3 separate regions of the Homo sapiens genome follow, and regions 2 and 3 are each reported to be linked to region 1. Evidence: microRNA targets listed by miRTarBase, many of them from high-throughput screens and not tested one by one. Region 1 holds a microRNA gene; each other region holds the end of a gene's coding sequence.

Region 1 (8,039 bases):
TTTAAGTTTGCAGGCAAATGAACCTTAATGTGCCTTCTCTACTTCCCTCCCTCCCTCCTTCCCTCTCACACTCAGAGTGCCAGAAAGAAGAACCTGCTGACTCCACCACTCGTCTATATGTCTTGACTGTAGGAGAGAGAGCTTTCCTGATCCCATTCCTATTTGTGGAGTCTGTGGGAGAGCAAGCCATCTTGCCTTCTTGTTATTTCTCTCCTTCACCCATGCATGACACTGCAAAGGGTTTGCTGGCTTGAGTCTTCTACACACACACACACAGTCTGAGACATCTGATGTGTTCACCCTCCCATTTGCCTTGAATGGTAGTGTGTGTGTTTTTTAATTCCACTCTTATATACACAACTTACAGGAGAGTGAATTTTCTAGTGCCACCCCCCCGCCATAGGCTATGTGCCCCCTTGCTTTTTTTCACCCAGCATCCAGAGTCGAGATTGTTTAGTGCCCTTCTTACAGGCCTTGTTGGCAAGAGTGAGCATTATTATGGGACACCCTCCCCACCCCCGACACAGATGATGCACACAGGAGTACAAGATGATGAGGCTCCTGATCACCCCACGCCTCCTTAGACCTACGTCTGTGTACATCCTCTGTCTGTGAGGGAGAGAGGAGGTGACTCCTTACCTGTTTGTCTCACATGCCTCACACATTGGGGTGTGAGCTGTCTCAGTTCCCTCCCACACATGAGGTTTACAGATGTGCAAGCTTTCTGAGCTGTGCCCTGCCTCTTAAACCCAGCATGCCTTCTTAGTGCTCTTCCCACAAGCATGCATTATTGGAGAGTGGACTTTGCTTTTTTTTTTTTTTTTTAACTTGCTGAGTTGAAGTATTTGAAGGATAGTGGGCCTAAAAAAACTGGCTCTGGCACAGGCACATGTGCCTTCACATGTGTACACACATGTACACCACGAGGGAGATGAATCCTTCGGCCTGTTAGTGTTTGCTTTGTATGGTAGATGTGTTGAGGAATAAAAAAAATAATCTGCCCCTTTTAGCTGAGGGGAAAAATAAGTTCAGAAATGGCAGTTGATCCATTAAGGATGGTGGGCAGTTTCTAAGCTATACTCTGTTGGCCAGCAAGTTTAAAGACTAAAGAAAAAGTGTCAGTGTGAACACATATTTGGCTCTTTTCACTATAGTTGGTGTTGTCAAGCAGCTGATACCTGCGGAATAGAATATGAGAATTGTGCTACAACGAATACATTTGCTTTCTTAGTCTGTACATTAAAAGCCCCTTTTTTTACTTGTTTTAAAGGTTGTGGAGCATTGTTTGAATGACAGTTATTTACATTGTAAAAATAGTATGAAATTTATGATATTTTAAAAATTTGCTAGGATTCATCAGTGAGCATTCTTCCTATATCTGCCCTGTCTCTGCTCTCCACTCCCCCAGCTCTCCTGCCCCATGCAGGGGTGCAAGCCTCTCAAGCTATCCCATCCCACCTTGACCACACAGAACTACAGTGAGCTTTTTATTTTAAATATGCTTCCCCAAACCTGTTGGACTGTGGGTTTCCCCATCCGCCTCCTGCTTGCAGCCTCTCTCTCTAATCCTGCTTTTCTCTTTCTTTCTCTCATGTGCATACACTCATGATATGCATGTAAGGGAGACACCTGAGTTGCCCCATTGCATCCAGCATCGCAGGACTGTGAGCCTTCTATTGCTGCCACTCTCCTACCCCACGCATGGCTTAACCTAAAATAAAACTGACCTCCCAATTGGGAGGTTATTACAACCTCCCAATGCACACACTGGCTGGGCCACAGTGGCGTGTGAACCACTGTGTCAGCCACCTTATTACCCCTTTTCTGTGCATGCCCCCACACACATTTATGATAGGAGCTTGAGCCTCCTTATTCTCCATCCTTGCTCTTTCTCTCTTCCTTTTCCTCCCTCATCTCACATGTGTGTGCCAAGGATGTGCCAGAAAGTGGGTCCTTATCATTTTCAGTTCTCATACACATGTGGGTACACACAGCTTTAGGGTTCAGTGGTTAGGCCCACTGTCTTGGTAGTCAGATTACCTGTGGTAGAATCCTGGCGTGATCTGTAATGAGCTTTGTGATCCTAGACAAGTGACTTATCTTGTGTCTCAATTTCCACAACATGAAAATGAGATAACTAATTGTGCCAACCATATAGGTTTGTAATAAGCACTGAAGGAGGCGACGCATGTATTGGGATTAACATGTAATAAACTTCCTTAATCCATATGCTTTGCCTGGAGCAACTGATTCTCCATAGAAGAAAACTCACACCTAAGCTGCTTGGTCCCATTATTTGAAAATGTTTGGGAAGTACTGCCTTGGATGACTGTTTCATAATTCTTTCCTTTCCTCAAATCTGCAGTGTCACCTCCCTTCCTTCCTCCTCACTCTCAGCTGCTGACTTTGCTTTCTTCTTCCTTGAGAAAATGGAAGCCATCAGAAGGGACCCTCTGAAGTTCCTCTGACCTCTCCTCCATTACCTGCACATGTCCCTAAGTGTCAGCTCCTCCCCATTATGGTAGATGAATTACTGGCACATGTAGCCAGGACCAGTTCCTCCACTTGTATACTAGATTTCAACCCCTGTCACCTATTCAGTGACAGTGCTCCTGCAATTGATCCCCCTCTCCTTACTGCATCATCAACTGTTCTTTGTATACTGGAGTGTTTGTACCAATATCTAGATGTGCTGCCACATATCCTGTCTAAAAATAATTTTAAAAATTAAAAAGCACTACCTTCTCTACCCAAAAAGCTCCTCCAGTTTCTACTCATTTCTCTGTTCCTCTTTACAGAAAAAAAAAAAATTTTTTTGAAGGAGCTGATTGTACTCCATCTCTACTTCTATTTCTCCCATTTACTCTTTTTTTTAAATGTATACTTTAAGTTCTAGGGTACATGTGCACAACATGCAGGTTTGTTACATATGCATACATGTGCCATGTTGGTGTGCTGCACCCGTTAACTTGTCATTTACATTAGGTATATCTCCTAATGCTATCCCTCCCCCCTCCCCCCACCCCATGACAGGCCCCGATGTGTGATGTTCCCCTTCCTGTGTCCAAGTGTTCTCATTGTTCAATTCCCACCTATGAGTGAGAACATGTGGTGTTTGGTTTTCTGTCCTTGGATCCCTTCCTTACACCTTATACAAAAATTAATTCAAGATGGATTAAAGACTTAAATGTTAGTCCCATTTACTCTTGAAAACCCTCCATGTAAAACTGTAACCTGCAGCACTTAAATGACCCTGGTCAAGGTCCCCAGTGTCCTTCACATTTCCCAATTTACTGGGCAATGTTGTCATCTTACTTGACAGATCAACACACAGTTGATCACTCCCTCTGCCTTGAGACTCTACCTGCTTTCCAGGATTCCACACTCATGAGGTTGTCTTCTTACCTCACAAGCCTCTCTTTCTCAGTCTCTTGATGGTTTCTCCTCCTCTTCCTGAATTCTAAGTATTAAAGAGATATAGGGCTTAGTCTTCAGACTTCTTTTTTTTTTTTTAACTTCTCATTAGTCCTCAGCTGTTCTCATCTTGTCTTGCAACTCTAAGTACCATTTTATGTGGATGATTTCTGTGTTTGTATTTCCAGCCTGGACTTCTCTCCTGAATTCCAGATGCCTATGTCCAACTATGTACTGGACATCTGCCCCGAATGTCTAATAAGTATCTCAAAACTTTAACACATCCAAAGCTGAGGTCCTGGTTTTCCTCCCCCTCTCAAAAAGCCCTACTCCTCCCTCTGTGTTCTCCAACTCAGCAAACAGCATTTCCCAATTGCATATGCCAAGGATATGGAGAATTTTAATAAGCTAAAGGTTTTGGATTCATCTTTGACACTTTTTCCCCTCCATTCTCCAAATACAAACTGCTGTCAAATCTTGTTGGCTCTACTTTCAAAATACATGTCTAATCTGACCACACAGCCACTTCTCATACTTCTCACTTCCTCTATTATTTCCACACTAATCCAGCTTTTCCCTGGGCTGACAAGTGCAAGTTCTCTTGCGTCTGTCTGTCTGTCTGTCTCTCTGTCTCTGTCTCTGTCTCTGTCTCTCTCTCTCTCTCTCTGTGTGTGTGTGTGTGTGTGTGTGTGTGTGTGTGTGGTGTGTGTGTGGACACAAAGTGGTTGGTGGCTGAGAGCTTGAGCCTCCTTTTTTGAGTCCTCTTTCTAATGACCTGCATGCCAGATTCTAAGCTTTCTTACCATCTGTTCTCGTATGTGTGTTATTTCATCTGTAAAATAGGGATAATGATCACCTCATGGATATTTTATGAGAATAAATGAGCTATGTGTGAAAAGCACTTAAAACAGTGCTCTGCAAATGTAAATACTATACTGGTGTTAGGAATAAAAATAAAGGAAAAGAAAGAAGGAAGGAAAACAAATATGTTGTAGATAGTGAACATTTCTGAAGGTACATATGTGAATGTACACAAGCACACCTTCTCATTACAGCATGTCTGGGGCACAGTCATAGAAGTCCAAGGCATCTGGGATACGCATGCACACAGTATACAGGAGAGCAGACCTCCCGACTTGCTTTCTCTCCTCCATGCCTTGAGTGTAGGACCGTTGGCATCTTAATTACCCTCCCACACCCAAGGCTTGCAGAAGAGCGAGCCTTCTCTTCCCTCTCCAGTGCATAGGCATGAGCACATGGACAGGTACACCAAAGGGAGGTAGACCCTCTCTTACGTGCTCTGTATGTGGGGTACACTGTTAGCAGCCATCCCATCTGGATGACTGTCCTGCTTCCATGGCCACTGCTCCTAGTTTACCCATCAGCACTCCTGTGGCTATCTTGCTGCCCACTTGCACCCCCCAGGCCAGTGCCTCTTGCCTCCTAGAGCATACCCATATGTCGTGCCAAGAGAGCAAGCCCTTCCCTGCTCCCTCTCTCACATCCCTTGCATGGTGGAGGGTGAGCTTTCTGAAAACCCCTCCCACATGCAGGGTTTGCAGGATGGCGAGCCTCAGCTTTCCTTGCTCTCTTGTGCATGTGTATATACACATACGCACTCCTTCACCAAAAGAAAAACACACACCCATGTGGTGGGAAGGAGAATGACTCTCAGCCATGTCCTTTCTCCCATCTCAGTCTTACATGGATCCTGCAGGAGAGGGAGACTTCTCTTAGCTTTCTCTTGCACATGGTGCAGCCCCTCATACTCAGGGATAGGCACAGCCTAGAGAAGGAAGGGGGGTCTTTTGACCTGGTTCTGTCTTAGCGGCACCTAGAGGAGGAGAGAGAACCTTCTCAGGACTCCTGTACATGGGGCATGATGAAAAGGGAGTCTTCTAGCTAATTCTCACAAACCCAGTTTGTGAGGAAAATTGTGTCTATATCATAACCATATGCAAAGATGTAATATGCACACACATTTTGGGTTCAGAAAGTAGAATCCACTCACTGTGCCATGCCTTTCCATATGCACACTTGTTTGCTCAAGAGGGTGTGTGAAGATCTGTCTTCTTAGACACTCATGTAGATATGAGTCAGATTGTGAGTTTTCTCTGTTATCTCCCCAGACCCAGGATTTGCAGCCGATTCATTTGGTGAGCCACTCATTCATTCAGCAAATATTTATCGAGCAGCTACTGTGTGTTGGGTACTCCCCTATGCACCAGGGATACACCAGTGACCAAAAGACAAGAATCCCTGCCCTAGTGAGGGGAGGCAGGTAGTGAACAAAATAAGTAAGTAATAGATAGTGTGCCAATTGTTGATAAGTGCTCTGGAGAATAATAAGGCAGGAAAAGGGGACAAGGAGTGGGTGGGGGTAGTTACAGCATAGATGGTGGTGGAGAAGTTTCGATATCAAATAGGGTAGTCAGGAAAGGCCTACTGTGTTCTAGGAACAACAAAGAGCCATTGTGGCAGAAGCATAGGGCTGGGAAGTAGTAAGTTACAATGGAAAAAGGGAAAGCTGATAATTACTATGTATCTCTAAAATCTAAGGCCGCTTTTAAAAAAAAAATCATACCATTATCACACTTAAAAATAATTACCATCCAGGCACAGGGGCTCATGCCTGTAATCTCAGCACTTTGTGGGAGGCTAAGGTAGGCAGATCACCTGAGGTTAGGAATTCAAGACCAGCCTGGCCAACATGGTGAAACCCCGTCTCTACTAAAAATACAAAAATTAGTCAGGCCTGGTGGCAGGTGCCTGTAATCCCAGCTACTCGGGAGGCTGAGGCAGGAGAATCGCTTGAACCCGGGAGGCGGAGGTTGCAGTGAGCCAAGATCGTGCCACTGCGCTCCAGCCTGGGTGACAAGAGCGAGGCTTCATCTCAAAAAGAAAAAAAATTGCCAACAATTTTTTAATATCATCACATATCTGTTGTTCCCATTTCCACTTGTCTCAGAAATATCATAAATTAGGATCCAGATAAGGTCCATGCATTGCATTTGGTTGATATGTATCTTAAGTCCCTTTGAATTATATCTTTCCCTTCCATCTATATTTTTTCTTTCCTTATAATTTATTTGTTGGAAGAAAGTGGGCCATTCATCCTATACAGTTTTGCATAGTCTGGATTTTTGTGATCACATCCCTGTGATGTAGTTTACATGTTCCTTCTCCTTGTTTGTATTTCCTGTAAACTGATAGTTGCATCTGGAAGCCTGATCAAATTCAGGCTTAATTTTGAGGAAGGGGGAGCAGAACTACTTCCATTAAGAGGCACAAAATAACTGATGATCATCTTTCTGTGATGTTAGTTGCCACCGATGCTCAATTCTTAGAGCCGTTATTTCATTAGGGGTTGCAAAATGATGATATTCTAATCCCATTATTCTCTTGATTTATTAGCTGGAATACTTCTATAAAGAAAAACTTCCCTTCATCTGCTATTTGATCACCCAGTGTTGCCGTCTTTATAGGCAAGATAGGATAAATGTTTGGTTCTCTTTATTTATCAGTACTCAGAATAATGAGTTGGTTCACTAGCTTACTCTAAAGAGGATTTTTTAAAAAAACTATTATAATAAACTCATAGATTTAAATATATTTGGACTTTTAATCCATTGCAGTTCTTGCCTTCAGTGAAGCTCCAGTGCCCCATCTTTAGCCAGTAGGAGCTTCTTCAAATTGGTTCCTCAGTCCTTTTGACATGCCTCCGTAGTTATCTGATAGCTTCTCCGCTTTCAGAGATGAAAAAAATGTACAAAGCTCATCGCAGATACCTTCCCCAGGCCTGGAATCTGCCATGTCTTCAAGAAGCCCTGGTTTCTTTTAATCAGACATGATATTTAAAGACCATATTTGCCTCTGGATTGGTCATTGTATTTAGGCTTCTACAATGATCAGAACAGAAAAATGTTTTGTTTTTGTGTTTTCTTGTTTCTAGATAAATACATCATGATTCCATTATACTTCTGATTCAAAATCAGGATTACAGTTTTCTGTGTCTTTGCTTCACAAGTATGGTTCTGACTGTTGTATGGCAAATAGGAGGAGAAAGTGCAGAAACTGGGAGACCAGTTAGGAGGCCATTGAAATAATTCAGTTGAGAGATGGATGGAGGCCTACATCAGGGTGATCGTGGTGAAGGTAGTAAAAAGTGGTTATATTTTAAAGTTACAGCCAGTTGAGTTTACTGATACATTGCATGTGAAGTGTGAGAGAAAGAGGAGTAGGAGACTGAGCCCTCTCTTCCCTCTTTGTCACATATGAGTTGGGTACATATGCTGACACTGCCTCTTTAATCTGTAGCATCCGCATGCAAGTGCTGTCCCAGTGCAGTACACCTGGGCTAGGACTCACAGATGGTATGTTATGCACAGAGCAGAGAGTGCCTGTCACCTCTCCTAGTTCCTTTCAGAGAGCTTTTTGAATGCCTGTTGGATTTGGGGATCCAATAGTGGCAAGAGCATCAGGGACCCTGGTTTTACTGTGGGGTGAGCTTGTGCCAGAGAACACAGTTCATCATTCCCATTCAGCCTGCCTTCATGTGTTCAAGGGGCTGGAAAAGGGGAGCTTTTTCTTTCCTAACTCCCATGCTATCCTTGGGGTACAGGTGC
Region 2 (8,039 bases), not on the chromosome of region 1:
GGCTGGGGTCACTCATGCTGTTTGGGTCACCTAACCGTTTAACTGAGCTTAGGAGGTCTAAGACAGCTTCCAGCACATGTCTCCAGCAGATTGGTCCAGGCTTCTTCACAGAGCCGCAGAAGAGCTCCAAAATGAGCGTGGAAGTTGCGAGGCTTCTTGAGGCCTACATGCAGAAGTTGCACAGCATCCCTTCCACCAGACTTTACTGGTCAAAACAAATCATAAGATCAGCCCAGATTCAAGAGGTGGGGAAACAGACTCCATCTCTTAATGACAGAAGCAGCAAAGTCACATTGTACTGGGACAGGATGGGAGGAATTATTGTGATCGGCGATCACACAACAGATAAGGGGTGGCATGAGAGGATGGGGGAGAATGGAAGAATTTAGGGCTGATTGGAGTAATAGAAATGAGTTTTGAGGCTACTGCCTTTGATCAGTGAGAAATGATAAGGCCCTACCTAAGGTAGGAATGCTAGGAAGGAGAGAAATATAAGCGACATTTCAAGAAAGGAATTTCAGATTGTGGCTGGGCGCAGTGGCTCATGCCTGTAATCCTAGCACTTTGGGAGGCCAAGGCAGGCTGATCACTTGAGCTCAAGAGTTCAAGACCAGCCTGGGCAACATGGCGAAACCCCATCTCTACTAAAAATACAGAAATTAGCCAGGCGCGGTGGCATGTGCCTGTAGTCCCAGCTACTCAGTAGGCTGAGGCAGGAGGATCACTTGAGCCTGGGAGGCGGAGGTTGCAGTGAGCCGAGATCACACCACGGCACTCCACCCTGGTGAGAGCCAGACCCTGTCTTAAAAAAAAAAAAAAAAAAAAAAGAAATTTCAGATTGTAACTTTTTGAGTTACTTAAGCAATCTAAGCTTGTTTCCTTCTCTATAAAATGGGACTAAAAAGAGTATATCAGCTGACTCTGGATTTGCTGCCTATGAGTTAGCCTTACTCTGCAAGGAGCAGTACTGTTCAATAAAAGATTGCTGTCTAACACCACTAGCTTGCCCTTGAATTCTTTCCTGGCTTTCTCCCAGGCTAAGCCCCAGTTTTGAGGCTTGCCTGCCCTGCAATAAAAACACACCATAAAAATAGTGCAAAGAAAAGCCACAAAATGGATGAAAATGTTCAAATTAACGAATAACTCTTTCAAAGTTTTATAATAAATAGGCAACAACAAAAAAGAGCATATCCCAGGGTTTCTGTGAAAGTAAGAAACAATGATGTAAGTAAAACAATGCTTTTTTCACATGGGCCTGGCTCAGGTACGTTCGATATACAGTAGTGATTACTGTCACTGCATCAAGGATAGCTGCAGTTTCTGGCATGGGCAGCAGGGTAAAGGGTGGTGTTAAGTTTGGAGATGAAGAATGCAGATGGGAAGAAGGGCAGATTGGCAGGGGTGAGAGTGGTGATTTGAGTTGTTACTGGGGTCTCTGCTTGACCCCCTTGCCTTCCACTAAAGACCCTCAAATCTGAGATCTTCTAATCCAAAGGTTCTTAACTTGGGGGAGATAGGCCTTAGGAAGTACCAAAGCCCCTGAAATTATATGTAAAATGCTATGGTGTTTTTTGTCTTTATTTTTCTGAGAACGGCCAAAGCTTTTACCAGTCTCTCAAACAGATTTGTGACTCCTAAAAGGTGAAAACCATAGATCCAAGCTATCAATGTATATTGACCCATAACTGCCCCAATACCTGACCCTCTGCTGTGGTTCAACTGTTGCAAATCACAAGGAAAGAGGAGCTCATGAACAAGACTGAGGCAATACTGCTAAGCTTCCAGGTCTCTCAATATGATCCCTCCTACATTAAGCCATATTTTGCATTATTATTCTCTGTGGGCTTGGTTCTCTACCCACTTTTTTTTTTTTTTTTTTTTTTTTTGTATTTTTAGTAGAGATGGGGTTTCACCATGTTGGCCAGCCTGGTCTCGAACTCCTGACCTCAGGTGATCCACCTGCCTTGGCCTCCCAAAGTACTGGGATTACAGGCATGAGCCACCATGCCACCATGCCCAGCCAACCCCCTTCTCTTTTTTTAGGGAGACCTCAGATGTACAAAATTGAATTAATCATAATCTTTGTTTATAACATACTTTTATCACTTTTGTCATGAATAACAAATTTTTATGTATAACTTTTTATTAACTTAGCTGCTTTTAATAATTCAATAAGCACCAAACATAAAAGCTAGAGCCTTAACAATAATCTAACTTTATGTTCCCTCCAGCCCCATCCTATCCCCCTACCTCTAAGAACCATTATACTGAATTCCATAGTGAGAACCATTCTTTCCTTCTTACATGGTTTTACTGCATACATGTTCTTTTTACATGTTTTTAAATTCTTAATTGTATTTAATTTTATAGCATCACTACTCATTAGAGAAATGCAAATTAGGACCACAACGAGGTATCAAGATACATCCACTAGAATGAAGTTTTTATTTATTATTTATTTTTGAGACAGAGTCTCCCTCTGTTGCCCAGGCTGGAGTACAGTGGTGCAATCCCAGCTCACTGCAACCTCTACCTCCTGGGTGCAAGTGATTCTCATGCCTTAGTCTCCCAAGTAGCTGGAATCACAGGTATGTGCCACCACACCCGGCTAATTTTTGCATTTTTAGTACAGACGGGGTTTTCCCATGTTAGCCAGGCTGGTCTTGAACTCCTGACCTTAAGTGATCCGCCCGCCTCGGCCTCCCAAAGTACTGGGATTACAGACATAAGCCACACTGCCCGGCCCACTACAATAAAGTTTAACGTTGATAATCCTAAGTGTTAGTACTAAGATGTGGAGCAAATGGACCTCTCATACATTGCTGATGGCCGTGCAAAATGGTAGATCCACTTTGGAAAACAGTATGGTGGTACCTTATAAAGTTAAACATACATTTACCATATGACCTAGCAATTCTACCCCTAAGTATTTACTCAGAAGAAAACATGGGCTGGGCACAGTGGTTCACACCTGTAATCCTAGCACTTTGGGAGGCCGAGGTAGGTGGATCATCTGAGGTCAGGAGTTCGAGACCAGCCTGGCCAACATGGCGAAACCCCGTTTCTACTAAAAATACAAAGAAATTAACCAGGCATGGTGGTGGGTGCCTGTAATCCCAGCTACTCAGGAAGCTGCAGCAGAAGAATCGCTTGAACCTGGGAGGCGGGGGTTGCAGTGAGCTGAGATTGCACCATTGCACTCCAGCCTGGGCAAAAGAGTGAGACTCCATCTCAAAAAATAAAAAAAGAAAAGAAAACACGTACTCACAAAATTATATGCCCAAAAGGTATTGGCAGCATTACTAATAATAGCCCCAAACTGGAAGCAACTCAAATGTCCATCAACTGGTGAACAGATAAACAACATGGTGGTATGTCTGCACCATGGAATACAATTCAGCAATAAAAAGGAACAAAACATTAATACTCACAACAAACTGAATCTCAAAAACATTACACTAAGTCAAAGAAGTCAAACACCAAAGACTACATATTGTATGATTCCATGTATATATGCAAAAATTTTCCAAGACCAAATATTTGAAAGGATTATCCAGGCTTCACAGAGCATAATCACTTAAGATTTTTATTTAAAGGCAAAGGATACAGGGCAGCAAGAGAAAGACTAGGTAGGTAAACATCAGGAATCTCAGAATTCCCAAATACAAGCTCCCCATGGTCCTTATGCACATGTGGACTGCACTGCAAAGTGCCTTTGGATTGAATCATCATGATCTATGTGAGGCATCCATCCTGGTTTTGGAAGAGCTCAAATCAGAAGTTCCCAGCAGGGCTTTTATGTTGCTCTGGCCATGTAATCAAGCCAGACATACGTAACTGGTTAGACCAGCTGCAAATAATCAATAAAAGGAGTGACCAGTGGAGCTTCAGACTTTATTTATTTATTTACTTATTTATCGAAATGAAGTCTCTTGCTGTCGCCCACGCTGGAGTGCAATGGCGCTATCTTGGCTCACTGAAACCTCCACCTCCCAGGTTCAAGCAGTTCTCCCGCTCCAGCCTACTGAGTAGCTGAGATTACAGGCACCTGCCATCATGCCCTTTTGTACTTTTATAGAGATGGGGTTTCACCACGTTGGCCAGGCTGGTCTTGAACTCCTCCTGACCTCAGGTGATCCACCTGCCTCAGCCTTCCAAAGTTTTGGGATTACAGGCGTGAGCCACCGCACCTGGCCGAGCTTCAGACTTTAAACAGCACATTATAAATCCCAATGCCTTTTTTTTTTTTTTTTTTTTTGAGACAGAGTCTCACTCTGTCACCCTGGCTGGAGTGCAGTGGCACAAAACGGAGTCTCACTCTCTTGCCCAGGCTGCTCACTGCAGCCTCAAACTCCTGTGCTCAAGTGATCCTCCTGCCTCAGCCTCCTGAGTAGCTGGGACCACAGGCACATGCCAGCGCACCCAGCTAATTTTTTTTTTTTTTTTTTTGGTAAAGACCAGGTCTCACTACATTGTCCAAGCTGATCTAGAATTCCTGGGATCAAGTGATCTTCCCACCTTGGCCTCCCAAAGTGTTGAGATTACAGGCGTGAGCCACTGTGCCTAGCCTATTTTCTATTTTCTACATCTTGATGGTGACTATACTATTATATACAATTATCAAAATTTATTAAACAATATATTTAAAATTTATGAACTATATTGTATGTAAAGAATAACTCCATAGAAAAGAAAAAACCTTTCATTTAGAAAGGGCATCATGCTACATTTACTCTTCTGGGATTAAACTTTTTTCACTTAATTATTTTATTGCTCAGATTCATCCATATGGTTAGGTATCATTATAGTTCATTTGACAATTGTATAATGTTCTATTATGTGAATATTCCAGTTTACTTGTCCACTCTCTTGCTCATGGGCATCTGGGTTATTTCTAGGCTTTTGCTTTTGTGAATAGGGTTGCTATGAATATTCTTGTACACATCTCCTGGTGTACATGTATGAGTTTCTCTAGGATTTATCCCCAGTATTGGATTAACTGGGTTATAGGGTAGCTGAATGTTCAATTACAGCAGATAAACTGTTTTCCAAAGTAGTTCTCTGCTTTTCTTATCTAGGTCTGCCTGTCCCCAATTAGATGATGACTCTAGAGGCAGGGGACCCTCTCATTTTGAATTACCACTGCTTAGCATTCAATTAGCACTAGGCTGGATATCCAGGAGTCCAAGGGCAGAAGCCCAGGCACCTGAGGCCTCTTAGCCTCAGCGAATACTAAGTACTATACAGAGTGAACAGCATGCAGGGACCATATGCCACGCACGGAGGCGGTTACGGTCCTACTCAGAGCACTAGCCATGCTCCTTAAAGCTCCATCTTCCTAGCTTCACCTGATTTTGAGTCTCAGAGATCTTCCAGGGCCCTCAATTACAATGCAAATCCCAAAAGAAGGCTTAACCTCAGCTAAAGTCCCTCCTCAACTGACACCTCTAATACCCAAATAAGGATGAGCAGGAAAGACAGAAGGGACAAAAAGAGTGGCAGGAAGAGGAGGAATAAGGAAAGTGGAAAAGCCAAGAAGCCTTCAGGTATTCTAAAATTATATACCCTTTTCTGCACAGGATGTTTTCCAGGAAAAAAAAAAAAAGTTTAAAAATAAAATATCTGCAAGTGACCCTGAGCAATTTTTTATATCCCTGCCACTAAAGGTTACTTTCTTTTGGCTAAAGTTACAAAAACAACATATCGAGTATGCAGTCAGTAAATGATGAAATCTTGCCCTGAACACAGTGTGTGCAGTGAAGCCCTGTGATGCTGAGGGAAGAGTTAGGGATTAGGGGGTGGGCCAAAGAACAGGCACCAGAGCTCAGCTGCAGACTAGAAACAACAAAAAGTCTGGAATCCAACAAAACAAAACATCAGGAAATTCCTAGGTGTTCAGAAAGCAAAAGGAGAGTTACCATTCTAAAGGATGAGGAAGCCCAGTAATCTCCCACAATCCCAACTGCTACATCTCCAAGAGCTCCCTAGCTACCTGTCATACACGAGGTCTGGGAATACCTGCTAGATGAATGAACAAAGAACAAGGCACGCACAAGAGTATGACGGTTTTGTGGCAGAAGCAGCCTCCTAAGCCACATTTGGGCAGCAGTATTGTTGACAGCAGGAATGGCCAGAATTATTCAGCTCAGAGGGTTTTTCCAATGTGAGTAGGTAAGCAGATTATTTTGCACTGGCTTAACATTTTTAGTTACTTGTTCCTTAAATTAGATCATGAGCCATATGGAAAAACCAGGCGGGCTTAATTGAGCCTGTTGGCTGCTCAAGACTGGTCAGGTGGAACTCACTTCAAGGGTGACAGGGGCTCAGTAACTGGCTGGTACAAATGGAACTAATGGCATTTGCACTGACATGAAGTCCCCAACTGCAGCCCCAGGTCTATAGAGTTTCAACAACTTTATTGGCCAAATGCTTCTCCTATGTTTACAACTTAGTGTGAGCCTGCTCACTGGCTTCTCCTTCTAAGCCCCTAAGCGGGCAGCAAACTTTAGTACAGGCCTGGAGATGGGGTAGGGGTTAATGAGTGAGTTGGAAACCTGCTGATGCTCCACAATTGGACAGCAGGACAGCAAATCTTCTACTTCTTATTGCCGAAAACTGCAGAAAGACACGAACAGGATGGAGACAGGACCGAGAGTGCATCTCTGCCACTGGTCCCAGTTTCCAGTTTCTGGTGCATCCAACAGAGTATACCCTTTGTATTCTTGCTTCAGGGATTGGGTGATACTATGTCAGCCTACGCATTTTGCAGAAGTACATGGGGCCAAAATTGGCCATGAGGTTTGGTATTACCAGCTCCCCAACCTGACAGGATGAGAAGAAACAAAATGTGTCCATGAAAACCCTTCGGAAGTGAGTCAGATCTTCCACCTGTACCTGGATGCTGTATTGATTGGCCAGGAGCTCAATGGCACCTTGCACCACATACTCGTTCTGTAAGTGTGAGAGTGAGCAGGTAGAATAGACAACATGGCCTCCTGGTTTGGTGGCAAGGAGTCCAGCCCTGAAACCAGAAAGAGACAGAAGCAGTTACTAGTGAGCTTCCCAGCAGTAGAAGAGCAACATAAGGAGCTGGAAACATGGATAAGGGAAGGCTACTACAGGATGGGTAGCTGGTTAGACTGCCTCTCAAGTCCCTTCCACAATGACACTGTCTGAAAAGTCACTCTCAAGGCAGATAGCAACCCAACCTTACTCCATGAGCTCTTCACTAGGAAGTCTCCTTACAATGACCCCCTGAGCTCTTGTTTATGGACCAAATTGCTATGCTGGCTATAGAATGAGTCCTTACTCTAGCAGCTATTTTTCAAACATGTGCTACTCACTGGTACTGAGGATGAAATAGCATGAGTCAATCTGTGCAGCCCACTCTAGTATATATATCCTACTAGATAGGGTTGCTTTTTTGTTTTTGTTTTTGTTTTTTGAGACAGAGTCTTGCTCTGTTACCCAGGCTGGAGTGCAGTGGCACGATCTCAGCTCACTGCAGCCTCCACCTCCTAGGTTCAAGTGATTCTCCTCCCTCAGCCCCCTGAGTAGCTGGGACTACAGGTGTGCATCTCCACACCCAGCTAATTCAAATAGGGTTTTTATGTTCCAGAGATGATCCCATTTCTGTCTCCTCTAGGCAGATCTCCAGCCATAAGATTCTTGTGTGGGTTATGGTCTTGGTAAGAGCTTCCAGTCCCCCAGTCTCCCAGAGCACTCTGGCACAAAGTCCTGAGTTTAAAAATCTGTCACTCACGCAAGAAGCTGCACTTGCAGCACAGGCAATATCTGTCGCTCCTTCTTCCTTGACCGCTTAAAGATGTTGTTCTCCTCCTCATGAAGGGAGTGGCGGTCTGTGGTACAGGGCACATCCACCAGCACCTACCCAGAGTGTTAAAGGGTAAAGTATTAAAGATCCTTATAGGCTTCTCTTCCTTAGGCCAGAGATGTTTTAGGCCCCTGGCCTAAGTTTGTGAAATATTCCCTCTGCCCATCCCTCCTTTGCAGAGTACCTGACAAAGTTCTTCATTTTA
Region 3 (8,039 bases), not on the chromosome of region 1:
AGTGTAAATATTTCAGTATATGTCTCTCCCTGAAAGATAAATGTAATTTCTTAATATGATGGAATAATTCAGTTAATGTTCAGATTTACCACACTTGCAATGACTTCTTTTTAAATATAGTTTGTTTGCTTTGAGATCAATTAAGATTCATGAATTGCTTGGCTGAAATGTCTCTTAAGGCTCTTTTAGTCTATAGATATTCTCTCTCTCACTTGCAGTTTATTTTTAAAACTTAAACAATTTCTGTAGAATTTTCCAGACTCTGGATTTTGCTGATTATATTGCTGAAGTGTCATTTAAAGTTTCTTCAAGTGGTAGTTAGATCTGTAGGCTTGATCATACTCAAGAATACTTGTCCAAGAATGTTTAACAGGTGGTTTGTAAGCTTTTATCAGGAAAGCACATAATTTCTGGTTCTATTTCTTTGTGAAGTTAGCAGCCATTGATAGTTATTGCCTAGCTCAAATAATTCATTAGTGGTTATAATATTCTAATTCTGTTGTTCCTTTTATATTTGTTAGCTGGAATACTTCCATAAGGATAACCTTCCTTTCATCAACCAGTTGGTAGCCTTGGGGTATAGTTCATACATAGGAGAAACAGGAGAGATGCTTGATTCTTGCCTTTCATTCACCAGTTTAGTGAATAAAAGATTCACTAAAAGATTCGTTCAAGGATGACTAGGCATTTGTGTGTGCACTTAATATTACTAATTAATGGAAGGTTTTCTTTTAAGCTTTCAATAATATTGGGCTACATCATAAATTCCTGAGGCCAATGGAGATTTCTTCTCTGACAGTTCAATAACCAACTGCATTGTCCTAAAGAGCCCTTAGTAGGTTGGTACAAAAGTAATTGTAAAGCTGCAAATACTTTTGCACCAACCTATATTTGCAATAAAGAACCATCTAGTTCATTCATTCATTCAACAAATATTTACCAAGTATCTTATATGCCAGGCACTCTTTTAGACACAGGAGATAAATATTTTACTTAACAAAACAAACATCCCTGATTTCTGGTGTTTTAAGCTCTGGTTGAGGCTAATTGTTAAAAAACAACATTTCAAAACTTCTGACCCACTTACCTCTCTGTCCTGTCTATTCCCGCAAATATGTCATCCCTACTACCAACTACACAGCTTCTACAACTTAAAAATAAAAAAGAAGCTGTCAGAAAATGCCTCTTCTCTAGAGCTTCAACTGCTATTGGGACATGGTTCCCTGTCCTTCCTTAAGAGAATTTTCAGTCACTTCTAACTATTTATCTATTGGATTTTGGGAAGATATATTGATTTTTACTTTAATGACCTAGAATAGTATATCTTCAAATCAAAGAAGGCATGTTTTTTGATTTAACAACCTTTTGCCATTATCAAATTATTCTTGCTTTATAAGAGATGTATTTTAATTCTGTAGTTACTGATTATACAAGAAATAATTGCTACTTGATTAGACTTGGCGTATGATGGTCAGACTCAGTGTATTATGGTATCAGGTGATTTGCAAAGCAAATGATACAGTTTTAGTAAGTTCAGAGAGAATACTAACATAAGGATATTTTCTTTAAAAAAGAATAACTTTCCAGAGCATAGAGTATTTAGTGTTTTTAAATGATGGATACTGCTCTGTATGTATTTGTTTCAAAACATCTTATTTTATCTTTGCAGGAGCGATTGGTTACATGGGAACAAGTGCCTTTGTCCGAAAAATCTATACTAATGTGAAAATTGACTAGAGACCCAAGAAAACCTGGAACTTTGGATCAATTTCTTTTTCATAGGGGTGGAACTTGCACAGCAAAAACAAACAAACGCAAGAAGAGATTTGGGCTTTAACACACTGGGTACTTTGTGGGTCTCTCTTTCGTCGGTGGCTTAAAGTAACATCTATTTCCATTGATCCTAGGTTCTTCCTGACTGCTTTCTCCAACTGTTCACAGCAAATGCTTGGATTTTATGCAGTAGGCATTACTACAGTACATGGCTAATCTTCCCAAAAACTAGCTCATTAAAGATGAAATAGACCAGCTCTCTTCAGTGAAGAGGACAAATAGTTTATTTAAAGCATTTGTTCCAATAAAATAAATAGAGGGAAACTTGGATGCTAAAATTACATGAATAGGAATCTTCCTGGCACTTAGTGTTTCTATGTTATTGAAAAATGATGTTCCAGAAAGATTACTTTTTTCCTCTTATTTTTACTGCCATTGTCGACCTATTGTGGGACATTTTTATATATTGAATCTGGGTTCTTTTTTGACTTTTTTTTTTTCCCAATCCAACAGCATCCTTTTTTTTAAAAGAGAGAATTAGAAAATATTAAATCCTGCATGTAATATATCTGCTGTCATCTTAGTTGGACCAACTTCCCATTTATTTATCTTAAAACTATACAGTTACATCTTAATTCCATCCAAAGAAGATACAGTTTGAAGACAGAAGTGTACTCTCTACAATGCAATTTACTGTACAGTTAGAAAGCAAAGTGTTAAATGGAGAAGATACTTGTTTTTATTAAACATTTTGAGATTTAGATAAACTACATTTTAACTGAATGTCTAAAGTGATTATCTTTTTTCCCCCCAAGTTAGTCTTAAATCTTTTGGGTTTGAATGAAGGTTTTACATAAGAAATTATTAAAAACAAGGGGGGTGGGTAATAAATGTATATAACATTAAATAATGTAACGTAGGTGTAGATTCCCAAATGCATTTGGATGTACAGATCGACTACAGAGTACTTTTTTCTTATGATGATTGGTGTAGAAATGTGTGATTTGGGTGGGCTTTTACATCTTGCCTACCATTGCATGAAACATTGGGGTTTCTTCAAAATGTGTGTGTCATACTTCTTTTGGGAGGGGGGTTGTTTTCTTCTGTTTATTTTCTGAGACTCCTACAGGAGCCAAATTTGTAATTTAGAGACACTTAATTTTGTTAATCCTGTCTGGGACACTTAAGTAACATCTAAAGCATTATTGCTTTAGAATGTTCAAATAAAATTTCCTGACCAAATTGTTTTGTGGAAATAGATGTGTTTGCAATTTGAAGATATCTTTCTGTCCAGAAGGCAAAATTACCGAATGCCATTTTTAAAAGTATGCTATAAACTATGCTACTCTCATACAGGGGACCCGTATTTTAAAATCTCCAGACTTGCTTACATCTAGATTATCCAGCACAATCATAAAGTGAATGACAAACCCTTTGAATGAAATTGTGGCACAAAATCTGTTCAGGTTGGTGTACCGTGTAAAGTGGGGATGGGGTAAAAGTGGTTAACGTACTGTTGGATCAACAAATAAAGGTTACAGTTTTGTAAGAGAAGTGATTTGAATACATTTTTCTGGAACTATTCATAATATGAAGTTTTCCTAGAACCACTGAGTTTCTAGTTTAATAGTTTGCTATGCAAATGACCACCTAAAACAATACTTTATATTGTTATTTTTAGAAAGACTCAAAACACCTGTATTTAAACCTTAATATGAAAATCATGCAATTAATAGTTACACAAGATGTTTTCATTACAAAATATGTACCTATCTATTGATGGACTCTACATCCTATATTGTGACATGTAAGTCCTTTAAAAGGTGAAAAGTATGATTTCTTACCACTTAAGTATGATTGATATGATCCAACAAATTTGATCAGAAGCTGTAGGTAAATCCTCTTCTGAAGCCAAAATGGTATATTAAATATAATTTATTGGTACTTCCATTTTCTCTTCCTTCTTACTTGCCTTTAAGATCTTATAAAAAAGAAACTAAAAGTTAATATTTAGTTGCCTATATTATGTAACCTTTTAACTATATATAAAGTACTTTTTTGGTTTCTTTCTCACCACTTTTATTCAAAAGTACTTTTAACATACCAATACATAGTCTGTCTGATGGGAGTATAAATTGGACAGTAAGGTTTTGTCTTAATAAAATGAAATTTGTTTCTCATGATATGAATCTTGCAGGTAAGATGTAGGGTTTATTGAAAATGTGTGGGTTAAATGCTTTCAGGTACACCAATTCTTTCTACTAAATTGAGCTCTATTTGAAGTTCTTTGGAATCTGTGGTGAAAAATAATTTTCTGATTTCCAAATACATTAAGAGCATTAAATGAATATTAATCACCTTTAAAGTCTTTTAGAAAAGGACTTGTATTGGTTTTTGGCTGCATAGAGGGGTTGAATAAGTGTATGTATGTGTGTGCGTGTGTGTGTGTCTTCTTAAAGAAGATGTAATTCACAAATAGTTTAGCTCCCTAGCGCTCAGTTGTAGAATAGAAAATAGAACATTATTCAAGTTAATTGAAAGGTGAGGTTTTTATACCCCCACTAATGCTGTGTATCTGTCTTTCGTTTGTTAACATTATTTGCTTAATTTCTTTCAACTCACACTTTGGATAATACTATCAAAAACTAAGGCTAAACATTCCTTGTGTATCTTTAAGCATGCTTCTCCTGAAATTTAACTACATTAGTAGTTGACATTTGTATACATATATCCTAATACAAGAGTAGGATAAGGTGGAAATGTAATGGCCTGAGGGATGGTGAAGCATTCTTTTAGTATTTTTCATCATGTTGGGCTCCTAGATTGTACTGGGGTTGCCCATAAATCAAACCCCATACTCTTAGAATTCATTATATTATGGTGATATCCGAACCTAGTGAATGGTATGCTTGGGTGTTTTCCATTGAGAGTGGATGGACCTCTTTATAAAGTTGGTTGCTGCAAAATCCAGTTCTTCCAAAAGCCACTTTATTTAGGGTTTATTCACAAGTCATATCCATTTTGGTACAGTGTTTGTTTCCTAATATTTATTAACCACCTTATACCAAATGTCTTGCAAAGAAATGTTATTAAAACCTTGAATTTTTACAAATGTAAAAAACAAAAAGTGTATTAATGTATTTGTTCAGGAAAAGCTACATACCGAAGGGCTTTTGTATATGAATTCTGTGGTGGGGAGACCCATTTGTAATCTATATGGCAGTTCCATCTGGGTTTTAAGTTTAGATTTCACCGTGTCTTAGTGCTTCATTCTATTGGTTTATTGGAACATGTAATAAATAGGAGTAGTGATGTATTAAAACACAAGTATTCATTAATGTTTTATATCTTCACTAAAATTCTATAGTTATGAAACTATCAATCAAGGTGTTATATTTCAGTCAGAAGTGAAAATTTATGAAGAGTATTTGGAAGTGTGTACAGAAATAAACTAGACTTACAGGTAGGCTAGATCAGAACGTTAACATATGAACCTGCAGAAATCTGGTAAGACTTAAATTCAGTGTGAGGAATAACTCTAGTTCTCTCCTATGAGCATTTCCTAAAAGCCATCTGATTTGGCATTCTTACTGGAGCTGCAGACAGAAATCTACAAAGACAAAAGTAAACAAAATTAAGTTATTATTCCACTGTTAGGAATGGAAATAAACTTGTGAAGTCTGTTTATTTTGAAGTATTGGTGAACTAGGCTTGCTAATTGATAACTGCAGCAGTTTGTGTTTACTCCAGTTCATCAGCTTAGGTCATTTGAAAGATATAAGAGCTTAAGGCAAGAAAGAAATAACATGGAATTCTATTTGAAGGACAACAGAACATTCTTGGAAAAGCAGCTCCAGTTGGTTTTTCAACTGTCAAACTTGAATGTGTAAGTCCCCACAGAGCATGGACAGTCGGTGCAGAGTTCCAAGGAAACAATTATTGCCTGATGACCACTTCCATTTTGTATACACTCTTTGGTTCGTATAGGCCATATTCCAACTGGCTTTTTAGTAATAGAAATCCAGTATATAATGTATCAAATACAATTGAGGTTCTAACCTAGTGTGTTAATTTATCTGAATTTGGATTTTTAAAAAGTAATAAAAAGTTAAATGTACTTCCTTTGGATTCCTTATTTCTTTCCTTTTTGAAACATGAACCAAGCATAAGGGATAACCCATTATTGACAGGCAAATGAATAACTTAGTAATAGTTTTCCACAATTAAAGCAGGGGTCTGCAGACTTTTTCTGTGAAGGTCTAGATAGTAAATACTTTCAGCTTTGAGGGCTATGCAGTCTCTGTTGAAACTATCGTTGTAGCACCAAAGCAGCCATAGTAGACTACATAAACTAATGAGCATGGCTATGTTCCAGTATAACTTCACAAAAATGGCCCACAGGCCATAGTCCGCTAACCCCTGGAATGATGTATTTAAAATTTAAGGTTTAAATTTGTATTTCAAAAGTGAACTGTAATATACAGTAAAGTTGAGAGAATGGTCCAGTGAATAAGATTGGTCTTTCTTAAGAATGATTTTTCTTTTATTGCCATTCTTTTGACTTTTTTGTATACCTATTCTGACTCTTACACTCAGACTTTACCATCTATTTGCCTGCCATCCTCTGATTGATGATTCTTTGCATTTGTTTAGCATTTACTACTTTTTCAAAGCAGTTTCACTTGTTCCTTCACAACCATCCTGTGAAGCTGGTAGAGTAGATAGCTGTGTTTTATGGATAAGAAACCACAGCTAAAGGTGCTCTTATGTTTAGCCCAGAAGTCATCAAGATTCAGGGCCCTGTTGTCTTGACTATTGTAACTGTAAAATGGGGGTGTCACCCTCTCTAGCCTGGGAGGCAGGTAATATATGTAGAAGTCACATTGAAAATTAGTGTTCTATACGAATGGAAGAGATTATTTTTATTGTGCCACATTGAAATCAGTGGTTAATTTCTCCATGTCTATTTGTATGTTTTGTTTTTCCGTTTCTGACTAGTTTTTAAAAATCCTGACCAACCTCCTTGGTTCTTTTCCCCTAGTTTTATTAGGTGCCTCAGTCAACACCTGTACTTGGCAATTCCCGTTAGCCACATCATTGGTACAAATTTGGATTACTTTTTATTTCTTTAATGAACACTTTTTGTCTGGTTGGAAAACTAAGGACAGAAGGGACTCGTATGCAGCCAGCTTCTTGATTTCAAGTGAACTATTTTTGTGGAACTGTTACTCTGCAATATAACATTAGAAAAGGGGGGAATAAGCCTAATTGGGACATGTGGAATCAGTGTAGTTTACAAATGTATTTTAAATTACTTGATTATTTGAAATGATTTTCAAAGTTTGCACGATTACTTTGCTTGACAGCGATTTCAAAGGAAAAAAATGTGGGAGATGGTTGCAGGGGAAAATTGATATAAGTGGGGCTGGCCAATGTTATGGTTATTCTTAGTGTCTCAGTCTAAGCCACTAGGATTGCAAGACTTAATATTGAAGGTCAGTGAAGAAAAGGGAGAGTCTAGAAAGTGAGACATGGAAGGTGATTCTAAGTTGGGGTTGGTCAGAGAGGTCTGCTGCAGTTATAGACCAGAAAGGGCAGTCCTGGATAGGTAAGTGTCACAGATAGGGTAGCTGCAATGCTGGCATGAGGATGTGGGATATGCGATTATCAGTGTGTCCCAGGCAGAGACATGGAGGGTGTGAAGCAGCCTTGTTAGGATGACTGCAGGGTGTTTTAATGCCAGAAGACTGGAATGTGGGAGTTGTAAGGAGCCAAGACTGGAAAGGTGAAAGGAAGGCTTGATGATGGACGGAGGACCTGTTATGCCACCCTGAAGAACTTGAATAAAGGTTTTGGAGAGCCAGGAAGGGTTTTAAGCAGCTGCTAAAAATTGTAGTATCTTTAATTACATTCTCCAGAAAACTGAGTATCTTCTCAGTGGTGAGCAATGTAAATGAAGGAATGAGCTGGCCTGGAACAAATTATCATGTATAGTCGCTTGGAAAGGCAAAATGAGAAAGTGGCCCAGGTGGATAAAACTCAGTAGACTTGAAGGGGCAAGAGAACCCAGTTACTCTGGGTGGGAGATGGACATCTAAGAGGAGAAAAACACTTGTTCAGGTTCACAGAGGACCCAGAGATATGGCAGAGGAAACCCTGAAGTAATTATTAATGTAATAATGGAGCTAAGTTGAGCAGTTTTATGTCATAAAGCCTGTTACTCTACCTCCAGTTTTTTCATGGTTTTTAAATTAAAGAAAAATACA

Evidence for each region. The annotated mature microRNA hsa-miR-188-3p reads CUCCCACAUGCAGGGUUUGCA and lies in region 1 at 4,955-4,975, shown strand. An mRNA with a match to its seed (bases 2 to 7 or 8) in the 3' UTR can be bound and repressed. Matches are read on the target gene's strand: a 7mer-m8 pairs with bases 2 to 8, a 7mer-A1 pairs with bases 2 to 7 and ends in A, and an 8mer does both.
Region 2: miRTarBase lists NSUN4 as a target of hsa-miR-188-3p. Seed matches in the 3' UTR shown: 7mer-m8 at 5,949-5,955 and 7mer-A1 at 4,512-4,518.
Region 3: miRTarBase lists TM9SF3 as a target of hsa-miR-188-3p. Seed matches in the 3' UTR shown: 7mer-m8 at 2,221-2,227.

The regions. Positions count from the first base shown.
Region 1 is chrX:49,998,602-50,006,640 of GRCh38, forward strand. MIR188 (microRNA 188) reads left to right here and starts at 4,902; the gene lies at 4,902-4,987. The region is part of intron 3 of CLCN5 (chloride voltage-gated channel 5); the gene reads left to right. MIR532 (microRNA 532) reads left to right here and starts at 4,547; the gene lies at 4,547-4,637.
Region 2 is chr1:46,360,552-46,368,590 of GRCh38, reverse strand. It overlaps NSUN4 (NOP2/Sun RNA methyltransferase 4), which reads right to left. Exons shown (of 6, transcript NM_199044.4): 5 at 7,763-7,887; 6 at 3,573-7,021. The coding sequence ends at 6,745. Among named protein-coding and RNA genes, the nearest start is that of NSUN4, 24 kb to the right of the region's middle. RefSeq lists a silencer at 3,688-3,888.
Region 3 is chr10:96,515,961-96,523,999 of GRCh38, reverse strand. It overlaps TM9SF3 (transmembrane 9 superfamily member 3), which reads left to right. Exons shown (of 15, transcript NM_020123.4): 15 at 1,670-5,890. The coding sequence ends at 1,737. Among named protein-coding and RNA genes, the nearest start is that of TLL2, 6.1 kb to the right of the region's middle.